2 separate regions of the Homo sapiens genome follow, and region 1 is linked to region 2. The links come from fine-mapping of genetic effects on gene expression. A gene starts in region 2. The other region holds a variant in brackets. All regions are shown on one strand. Distances are from middle to middle. Region 1 overlaps MAPK14 (mitogen-activated protein kinase 14). Region 2 holds the start of MAPK13 (mitogen-activated protein kinase 13).

What was found. PIP is the estimated chance that this variant, and not a neighbour inherited with it, causes the effect. A credible set is the group of variants that fine-mapping cannot tell apart.
Region 1: its variant is the best candidate, but not a certain one, in a credible set for the expression of MAPK13 in fetal neocortex (Walker 2019, PIP 0.54).

The regions. Positions count from the first base shown.
Region 1 is chr6:36,104,951-36,110,266 of GRCh38, forward strand. It overlaps MAPK14 (mitogen-activated protein kinase 14), which reads left to right. Exons shown (of 12, transcript NM_139012.3): 11 at 2,505-2,678; 12 at 3,430-5,316. The coding sequence ends at 3,497. Among named protein-coding and RNA genes, the nearest start is that of MAPK13, 23 kb to the right of the region's middle. The variant A/C (reference allele first, on the strand shown) is at 2,492.
Region 2 is chr6:36,127,979-36,133,353 of GRCh38, forward strand. It overlaps MAPK13 (mitogen-activated protein kinase 13), which reads left to right and starts at 2,535. Exons shown (of 12, transcript NM_002754.5): 1 at 2,535-2,723; 2 at 3,293-3,422; 3 at 4,643-4,701. The coding sequence starts at 2,605. RefSeq lists silencers at 2,431-2,680, 2,721-2,790, 3,431-3,540 and enhancers at 2,686-3,289, 3,181-3,300, 4,011-4,260.

The DNA of each region.
Region 1 (5,316 bases), 23 kb before region 2:
GAGGCTTTGGTCCATCTGGTGCTCAGCACTGTACTTCTCAGCATTTAAACGTGCCTTACAGCCCATTGCCAAACAGTGATGTCATATAATGAGGCTCCCCTTGCTGGGCAGATGGAGCACAGTGTTACTATCACAAGCTCGTGCCCAGCATATTAACTGAGCAGGAACATGCCAGAAATATAAATATTAACAGCTCTGTTTTGTCAGCCACTGACTTTGTTTCACTGCTATTCCCAAAACATGAATTAAAACTTAAATTACCCCTTGATGTTAGTGTATGTATTTATCTGTCAAGATTTTTTTTTTTTAAGAGATGGCATCTCACTCTGTCACCCAGGTTAGAGTACAGTGGCACAGTCACGGTTCATGATAACCTCGAACTCTTGTGTTTAAGTGATCCTTCCTCTTCCCTATCCCAAGTAGCTGAGACAACAGGCACATAATGCCATGCCCAGCTAATAAGATCTTTGAGGAATTTGTTCTTGCCCCTGACCTTATTGGTTATAAGAACATGGTCCTTTTTACCCTAAGGGTAACAGAGACTTGTCGTATAATCTGTGTTCAATTATAAAATCAACAGCTGATAAGGTTTCTTTTTCTAAGAAGAGAAGACCATCAGAAGAATATATATATATATAATCCAGGCATTCACCTAGTACTGTAAAGTGTAAACTTATGAACTTGAATTGACACATGAATATTTACTTTGTTTCTGTATCCCCTTGAAGCCCATATTTCTCCAGTGGATTACTCTGGAATTCAAGCTGTAGGACGGGTGTTTTACAGCCTCCAATATACACAGCAGTAGATCTCTATAGGAAGCTGTCCTCTTCACTACTCACCCCCACACCCTCCACATTTAAGGAGTAATTTGCAAAGTCTCAAAAGCCTTTTTCACCACAGTGATAACTGGTTATATGGCAGTATTTATTCTCCCAAGTGCCACCATGCTGAAACACAAAAATACTCATTTGAAATATAGAGTTAGACAAATTACCATTTTGTAACCCCTTATGAAATAATTGCTTTTGGGAAGGAAACCCAGTGAATGCAGAAAGCCATAAGTGAAAAGAATGGATATTTACTTGGTACCAAAATATCCCGCAGATTACTTGCTTTGGTCAAAGGGGAAACATCTTAACCCAGTGATCAATTTTAGCTCATTAGTAGTGGGACAGATGGCCTTAATGCACTGTCACGTGCACAGCATCACCTGTATTTTTGCTGAAAATGTTTAACCTGATTCTTACCAAAATTTTTGACCTAACTTCCGGTTTTTGGGAAGTACAGGGGATAGTGGAAAGCAGGGTATAGACACATGACAGCAAAAGAAGCAAAATCAGACACATCCCGAGAAACGGTCATTCTCAGGACAATCAGAGGGTCTCTTTAGATCAAAATCAGGAAAGAACAGGGCTTAGAAGTAAGAAGATTATTCTAGACTAAGAGAGACTAAAGAAAACCAGTCAGTTGCAGTGCATGGCCCCTAATTGAATCCTGGTTTCAACAAACTAGTTCTAAAAGACAACGTTGGAATAATTGGAGAAATCTTAACATGAACTGGATTTTAGATGATATTTAGAAATTATTTGTCAGAGATAATAACAGTATTATGATTATATAGGAAGATGTCTTCGTGTTGAAATATTTGGGGAGGGTAAAGTGTCATGTCTATAATTTTATTTTAAAACAGTTCAGAAAAAAATACATATAAATACAGAAATATAAAAATGTTAATTGTTGAATATGCTAGGCATATGAGTGTTCACTTTATCATAGTTTTTACTTTTCTGTTTCTGTATATTTGAAATTTTTCATAGTGAAATTTTTAAAAATAAAATTCCCTTTGATTTTAATACCATGTCTCACCCTCATCACCATGTAAAACCCCCAGTTTATTCACTGTTTGAAGATCTGTTGATGAATATTTGATGTTAGTAAATAAACAGCTTAGGGGGACAAAAAAAAAACAGCCCTGCCTACCTATTGTAGGTTACTTCAGCTGTAGGCTTTGTTTTATACAGTTTGACTACACTGGTAGCAGTTTGACATTGACGGTCCACAAAAGCCTGTTCAAACAGAATCCCAGTCATTTAAAAAAATTCTTCTTTAGTAACATATTCTTTAAAAATACAAAATACAGGAGGAGGGTGAGGGTTGAGAGATAACCTATCGGGTACAATGTTCACTATTTGGTTAATGGGCACGCTAGAAGCCCAGTCCCCATCAGTCCGTGGTGAGACCCATGTAACAAATGTGCACATGTACCCCCAAATCAAAAATAAAATAAAAAAATTTTAAAACATAGAAAATACAGATACACACACACACACACACACACATACACACATAAAGGAGAAGAGGGCTAATATATCCTAGAGTAGGTATTTTGGAGGAGAGTTCTTTGTTTGGATATGAAGGGTCAAAACTATGTTTGCTCAATAAGGCATACTTTTTTGTAACATGTTAAAAACTCTTTTCCTTCCTGTCT[A/C]TGGTACTGATAGCTGTCGACTTGCTGGAGAAGATGCTTGTATTGGACTCAGATAAGAGAATTACAGCGGCCCAAGCCCTTGCACATGCCTACTTTGCTCAGTACCACGATCCTGATGATGAACCAGTGGCCGATCCTTATGATCAGTCCTTTGAAAGCAGGGACCTCCTTATAGATGAGTGGAAAAGTAAGTCCTAAGGGTAGGATTAACATCTTGAACCACTAACCAAAAGCGGTGGGAAAAATAAAAACTGAATGGTCATAACCAACTTGCTAAAGCTTGTAGATGAGGTCTCTAATGCAGAATGAATATGTTCTCTGGTGGAAACTGTTGTAGACAGTGATACTCTCTGGACCTTTGAGATACTTATGTCTGGTCTGATTTTATGCACAGCCCCTCACATAGGAGTTTTGCATGGAGAGTTGAGGTTTTCAGAGTCATTGCATTTACAACATCTCTCTGAGCTTTTACAGTTTTACAATTAGTAGAACTGGGGCAAAGAGAATTTATGTCTTATCAGTTAACTTAGAACTAGTTAGGGACATAGCCAGGAATGGAACCCATGTATCCTGTGTCCAGTCCCATATTCTTTCCACAAAACACAAGTTCAGAACTCTAGTTAAATCCCAAGAGCCAAGACCATCTGTTGCTGTAGCTTGTGAGAGTGCTCTTTCATTCTTGAGCACCTCCGTAGAGAGCTTAAAAGAAGAGGCACTCAGCGATGAAAAACATGAGAAAAAAAATGGTTCTTTTCTATGTCCCTTGAACTTCTGTGTGATAACGTGTTCCAGTAGGCTATTACATACAAGCTGTGAGGTAGCCCATCAAACCACTACCTGGACAGAGAGGAAGGATCTTGAGCTTAGAAGTCAGAGTGCTTGCCAGCAAAGAGAATAGCCTAAACTCTCACATCTTACTTTTCCTTCCCAATTTCTAGGCCTGACCTATGATGAAGTCATCAGCTTTGTGCCACCACCCCTTGACCAAGAAGAGATGGAGTCCTGAGCACCTGGTTTCTGTTCTGTTGATCCCACTTCACTGTGAGGGGAAGGCCTTTTCACGGGAACTCTCCAAATATTATTCAAGTGCCTCTTGTTGCAGAGATTTCCTCCATGGTGGAAGGGGGTGTGCGTGCGTGTGCGTGCGTGTTAGTGTGTGTGCATGTGTGTGTCTGTCTTTGTGGGAGGGTAAGACAATATGAACAAACTATGATCACAGTGACTTTACAGGAGGTTGTGGATGCTCCAGGGCAGCCTCCACCTTGCTCTTCTTTCTGAGAGTTGGCTCAGGCAGACAAGAGCTGCTGTCCTTTTAGGAATATGTTCAATGCAAAGTAAAAAAATATGAATTGTCCCCAATCCCGGTCATGCTTTTGCCACTTTGGCTTCTCCTGTGACCCCACCTTGACGGTGGGGCGTAGACTTGACAACATCCCACAGTGGCACGGAGAGAAGGCCCATACCTTCTGGTTGCTTCAGACCTGACACCGTCCCTCAGTGATACGTACAGCCAAAAAGGACCAACTGGCTTCTGTGCACTAGCCTGTGATTAACTTGCTTAGTATGGTTCTCAGATCTTGACAGTATATTTGAAACTGTAAATATGTTTGTGCCTTAAAAGGAGAGAAGAAAGTGTAGATAGTTAAAAGACTGCAGCTGCTGAAGTTCTGAGCCGGGCAAGTCGAGAGGGCTGTTGGACAGCTGCTTGTGGGCCCGGAGTAATCAGGCAGCCTTCATAGGCGGTCATGTGTGCATGTGAGCACATGCGTATATGTGCGTCTCTCTTTCTCCCTCACCCCCAGGTGTTGCCATTTCTCTGCTTACCCTTCACCTTTGGTGCAGAGGTTTCTTGAATATCTGCCCCAGTAGTCAGAAGCAGGTTCTTGATGTCATGTACTTCCTGTGTACTCTTTATTTCTAGCAGAGTGAGGATGTGTTTTGCACGTCTTGCTATTTGAGCATGCACAGCTGCTTGTCCTGCTCTCTTCAGGAGGCCCTGGTGTCAGGCAGGTTTGCCAGTGAAGACTTCTTGGGTAGTTTAGATCCCATGTCACCTCAGCTGATATTATGGCAAGTGATATCACCTCTCTTCAGCCCCTAGTGCTATTCTGTGTTGAACACAATTGATACTTCAGGTGCTTTTGATGTGAAAATCATGAAAAGAGGAACAGGTGGATGTATAGCATTTTTATTCATGCCATCTGTTTTCAACCAACTATTTTTGAGGAATTATCATGGGAAAAGACCAGGGCTTTTCCCAGGAATATCCCAAACTTCGGAAACAAGTTATTCTCTTCACTCCCAATAACTAATGCTAAGAAATGCTGAAAATCAAAGTAAAAAATTAAAGCCCATAAGGCCAGAAACTCCTTTTGCTGTCTTTCTCTAAATATGATTACTTTAAAATAAAAAAGTAACAAGGTGTCTTTTCCACTCCTATGGAAAAGGGTCTTCTTGGCAGCTTAACATTGACTTCTTGGTTTGGGGAGAAATAAATTTTGTTTCAGAATTTTGTATATTGTAGGAATCCTTTGAGAATGTGATTCCTTTTGATGGGGAGAAAGGGCAAATTATTTTAATATTTTGTATTTTCAACTTTATAAAGATAAAATATCCTCAGGGGTGGAGAAGTGTCGTTTTCATAACTTGCTGAATTTCAGGCATTTTGTTCTACATGAGGACTCATATATTTAAGCCTTTTGTGTAATAAGAAAGTATAAAGTCACTTCCAGTGTTGGCTGTGTGACAGAATCTTGTATTTGGGCCAAGGTGTTTCCATTTCTCAATCAGTGCAGTGATACATGTACTCCAGAGGGACAGGGTGG
Region 2 (5,375 bases):
GTCTAGCCTAAAATCTGGCTTCCAGGACCCCACCCCAACTTCAGAATCAAGGTACCTTGCACTGGTGCCACTGATCCCAAAGGTCCAAAACTCCTGCAGCACTCACAGGCAAGCGACCCCGTTCCTTAGGCTCTCATGGGGTCTCAGGGCCAGAGTAGGGGGTGGGGGAGGGAAAAGGCTGGGGAAAATATCAGATACCCCAGGGCAGGATGGACTGAGGGAGACATGGTTGGATCAGTAGACATGTCCTTATGATGTGGGCAAGGCCATTTCCTTTGAGGAGCAATTCTGTCAACTCTAGGCCACCGCATAGCCTCGCAGCCAAGAGCAGGGACTCTAGAATCAGGCTGTACTTGCTTTCACCCAGCTCTGCCCTTACCAGCTGTGTTACCTTGGGCAAATTACTTAGCCTCTCTGTACCTCGGGTTCCTCATCTCTAAAATGAGGATAATCATATTACTGACTCACAGGCCTCTTACCAGGATTAAGTGAGTTATATAAAACACTTAATGACGGGCACATGGCAAACACAAGTGTGTATTAAATGACTCTTTTACATCTAATGGGCTGACTCCTCCATTCATTCTCCACACATTTGCTGTTATATTGCCATGTGCCAGAAATGAAAAAGACAGATTGCCTGACTGAAATAATGGCAGGTGTTGTTGTGTGATGATGGCACCCCACCCTCATCTCAGAATGATCTTCCAGGCTGTGCCTGAGGCTGCAGGACTGCCCGGGAGGGCTTGGGGCACAGAGTTTGGGGGCTGCAGACTCCCTAGTGTGGGCCCCCGGCTTGCTGTAAGCCCCTAGCAAATTTCTTTCCTTGTTCAATAGACCTTCTTTTTGACAAAGTGAAGCAGGTGGTCCCCGCCCCTTCCACAGCCCCATGCCTGGGCAAGAGAGGGGTTGGACAAGTCAGGCTGGGCATCCAGAGCCCTTGCAGCCATCTCCTCCCCCCACCTGCCCACCTTGCTCCTCAGAGGCCTTTGTGGTTTGAGCAAAGAATCTCCATCAGGCTGCACAGGCCACCAGACAGGTGGCAAGGGCCCCAATTAGTCATTGTCCTCATAGAGCCTTAGGAAGTCCACAGAAACTGTGTTCAAAACTGCACATTTGGGCCAGGTGCGGTGGCTCACTTCTGTAATCCAAACACTTTGGGAGGCTGAGGTGGGCGGACCACCTGAGGTCAGGAGTTGAAGACCAGCCTGGCCAACATGGTGAAACCCCGTCTCTACTAAAAATACAAAAATTAGCTAGGAGTGGTGGTGTGCACCTGTAGTCCCAGCTACTCAGGAGGCTGAGGCAAGAGAATTGCTTGAACCTGGGAGGCGGAGGTTGCAGTGAGCTGAGATGGCGCCACTGCACTCCAGCCTAGGCAATAGAGTGAGACTCCATGTCAAAAACAAACAAAAATCCTGCACATTTGAACCTGCGTGGATATTTGGTATTATAGAATTAGTGCTATTAATTTTAGGTTTAAGAATGTATTGTGGGCCAGGCGCGGTGGCTCACGCCTGTAATCCCAACACTTTCGGAGGCCGAGGCGGGTGGTTCACGAGGTCAGGAGTTCAAGACCAGCCTGGCCAAGATGGTGAAACCCCATCTCTATTAAAAATACAAAAATTAGCCGGGTTTGGTGGCAGGCACCTACAATCCTAGCTAATCGGGAGGCGGAGGCAGAGAATTGCTTGAACCCGGGAGGCGGAGGTTGCAGTGAGCCGAGATGGCAACTGCACTCCGACAGAGTCTCAAAAAATATATATATATAGTATTGTGGATACGTACTTTTAAAAATCCTTACGTTTTAGAGATACAAAAATATTTATGAATAAAATGATATGACGCCTGGGTTTTGCTTCAAAACGATGGTGGGAGAGGAATGTGGATGAAATAAAATTGATTATGAGTTGTGGTTGCTGGGGAATTGGGGTCACGGGGGTTCATTAGAACCTCCTATCAGATGTGGTTCAGAAGCCTCAGACCTGGGAGCTGGCTAGAAATGCAGAATCTCGGCTCCACCCCAAACCTACTGAGTCAGGATCTGTATTTTAATCAAATAAAATGCCCAGGGGATTCCTGAGCACACTGAAGTGTGAGAAGCGCTGGCTTACTCTGTTCAATTCTTTCCTGCATGTTTGACATTTTCCATAATGAAGAGGTTGTGGGGTTTTGTTCTGCTTTCCTGTGTGTTCACAGTCACAGGGAGCTCTTCCTACGGAGACCGGGGCTGGAGGGAACTGGGAAGCACTGCCTCCCCGCTCCTGCTTGGACCCACCAGCCCCGCCGCTGGCCCGCGCTCGGCTGGGAGGCACCGGGGTCCCGCTGGGCAGCCCCGACCCCGTGCCTGGGCCGCACCTGCCGCAGTGGCTCCGTCGGGCCGGGCGGAAGCGCGGGAGCGCAGGGCTGGACAGGCCCGGGCGTGGCGGCCCCGGCGCACCTGGGCGAGCCGGCAGGTGGGAGCGTAGCAGCCCGGGGCCCCCGCCCTCGCGCGGGGGAGGAGCGGGCGGCGCGGGGCGGGCGCAGCGGGGGTCGGGGCGCTGGGAGCCCGTTGGGCCGCGAACGCAGCCGCCACGCTGGGGCCGCCGAGATCGGGTGCCCGGGATGAGCCTCATCCGGAAAAAGGGCTTCTACAAGCAGGACGTCAACAAGACAGCCTGGGAGCTGCCCAAGACCTACGTGTCCCCGACGCACGTCGGCAGCGGGGCCTATGGCTCCGTGTGGTGAGACCCCTGGGCCGCTGGGGGGCGGGGGGCGGGCGCCAGGCTCTCCCCTTTCCGCCCAGCCCGCCCTGGGCTGGCCCCTCGCCAGCGCCACCTTGACCGCGGACCTCAAGGCCCAGCGCCCTCCCCGGGGCCACCCAGCGGCCATCTCCCTTTTCTCACCGAGTGGCTGAGTGAGGTCTCTGGGGGTTGAGTTGGGACTGGGCCTGGTTCTCCAGGACTGTACACTTGCAAGACCCCAGAGTTCATCGGGCAGATCCTCACTGTTACAGACGAGTACACCGAGGCCCCAAGAGGGGGAGGTGGCTCGCCAAGTTGCAGACAGAGTGAGACTCCCGCCCTGCCGTGGATCCCGTCGCAATGAGACGTTGCTGCCCCTGGCGCTGTGCCCCTCTCTCAGCTCCTGCCTGGCTTCCTACTCCCTGCCCTGCGTCCCGCGGCTCCCCCATATTCTAGGTGGTGGGCCTAGTCCCCTCTCAGCCCAGCTGCCCAGTGGGAGGGGTCAGGGCGGTCTGGGAGATACGGCCCAGGAGGAGAGCCTCGCCTGCTGACCGGCCTGTGCCCGACAGCTCGGCCATCGACAAGCGGTCAGGGGAGAAGGTGGCCATCAAGAAGCTGAGCCGACCCTTTCAGTCCGAGATCTTCGCCAAGCGCGCCTACCGGGAGCTGCTGCTGCTGAAGCACATGCAGCATGAGAACGTAGGTGGTGGCTGCCCCGGGGAGGGGGTGGGGGCTGCCCTGGGGAGTCAGGGGCAGGCGCAGGCGGGGCCTCCCGGTATGGAGAGCTCGGGACAGTCTCCTCCCTGCTCCCCTGACGGTGCCTCTCGCCTCACTATTGAAAGGAGGGGGTGCCGAGACCTTCCCTGCCCACTTTCCAGGAAGAGGTCAAAGGGTATTTTTGGCAGAATGCACTTTGTGAGGTACAGACTGTGTTATCCTACAGAGGAAATTGGCACAGGGGAACTTTGTAATTGGTTCCATGTCTGAGAGCTTGTGGCCAGCTGGGACTAGAATCCTAGTTAGCGTTGTGTCCACGTGACCCTGATAACAATAGCAATATACACATATTGAGCACTTCCTATGTTCTAAGAGCTCTGCATACACTAACTTGTCTAGTCCTCATGATATATGAGTACTACTGCCCCCATGTCACAGACAGGAAACTAAAGCACAGCAAGGCTCACAGATTAGATGGTTAGTCAGTAGCAGAGCTGGGGTTTCAATCTCGGCAGCGAGGCTCCCGGTCTGAGCACATGACCATCAGATTGTCTTGTCTGATAGAAGCAGCTGGGAAAACCAGGGGCCCAGCTCAGGGCCTGGCAGCCAGGCTTTGCTGCAGGATACCTAGATTGGAGGGCAGACATTTCAAAGAATGATTTCAAAATGTTATGTACATTTTAAGCCCATCCTTCTCCAGCAAACCCCTCCCCTATGGCCTCCAGCCAGGGTGATCTTGCCCTTGGCTCTGAACCAGCCCTGTGGCAGGCAAGGATGGATGTGGCTGGAGACCCAAGGTCAGGGGCAGGGAGTTTGCTGGCTGAAAAGCTCCTTCTCTGTTCCCTCCTTTTTCCCTTCCACCCTCCCCTTATGCTTTCCTGCTGCCTAGGTGAGTTGAGAGTGGGTTTGTGTTGCTTGCCCTGACACCAGACTTGACAGCAATGAGCACACATCATTCTCCCCACCTTCCCTTCTCCCCAGCCTGACTCTCTGTCATGATTTATTGCAAACTCCCTCCAAATCCAGGGGATTCCTCTAGGCCTCTGCCCTTTTTACTGCTTCCAAGAAGGTTGGAGACATGCCTCCTGCTGGAGGTGGTGTATTAGGAAAGGGTGGATGGCCCTGTGCATGGCCAGGGCCCAGGAGGAGGTGGGAGGAGAAGGTAGCGTCTGTCTAGCCCTCACAGGTGACTTCTTCCCCAGGTCATTGGGCTCCTGGATGTCTTCACCCCAGCCTCCTCCCTGCGCAACTTCTATGACTTGTGAGTTGGGCTGCACTGGGTTCTGGGGCATTTGCAGGCCTTACATGCCGCTGGGGAGCAAGGTGGGGGAGGGTCTAGGGTTTCTATTCCGGGTGTGGCGGGGAGAGCCTCCTTCCCTGGCAGTCCTGTGCCTTTGCCTGTCAAGTGTGATTCTCTCTGGAAAGATGCTTTTAGCCAAAGGCAGGCAGGAAGAGGCAGGAAGGACTTTGTGGGGTGCTTGCCTGGCAGGGGGCAGTCTGCACAGCTGCTTTGCTTTTTACCCAGCTTTAACACCATGAAGACACATCTGCCAGTCCTCACAGGGTTAGCACCAACTCACCTTTCCTGGGGACACAGATGTGAGTCTGGACCTTGGAGCTCTTTCTAGCATGAAGCAAGGATTAAGAAGCCTTGGCTGCCTCTGGCTGATGGGGGTGTTTGACAGAATGGCAGAAAACCAGAATATTTAGCTGCAAAATGTATAGCTTTGCCTGTGCAGTGTCTGAATGAGACTGGACTATTTGGACAAGATGGAGAAGTCAGTGTGGCACGTGGAGGCCAGCAGCTGGCTTGGTCAAGCTGAATCTGGACTGACCCTACAGGCAGCCTCAAGACCTGGGGACTTTGAGCCGGGAGGTGATATGTTCAGATGGGATTTGGGGGATGCACACTGGCAGCAGCAAGAAAGGAGTAGG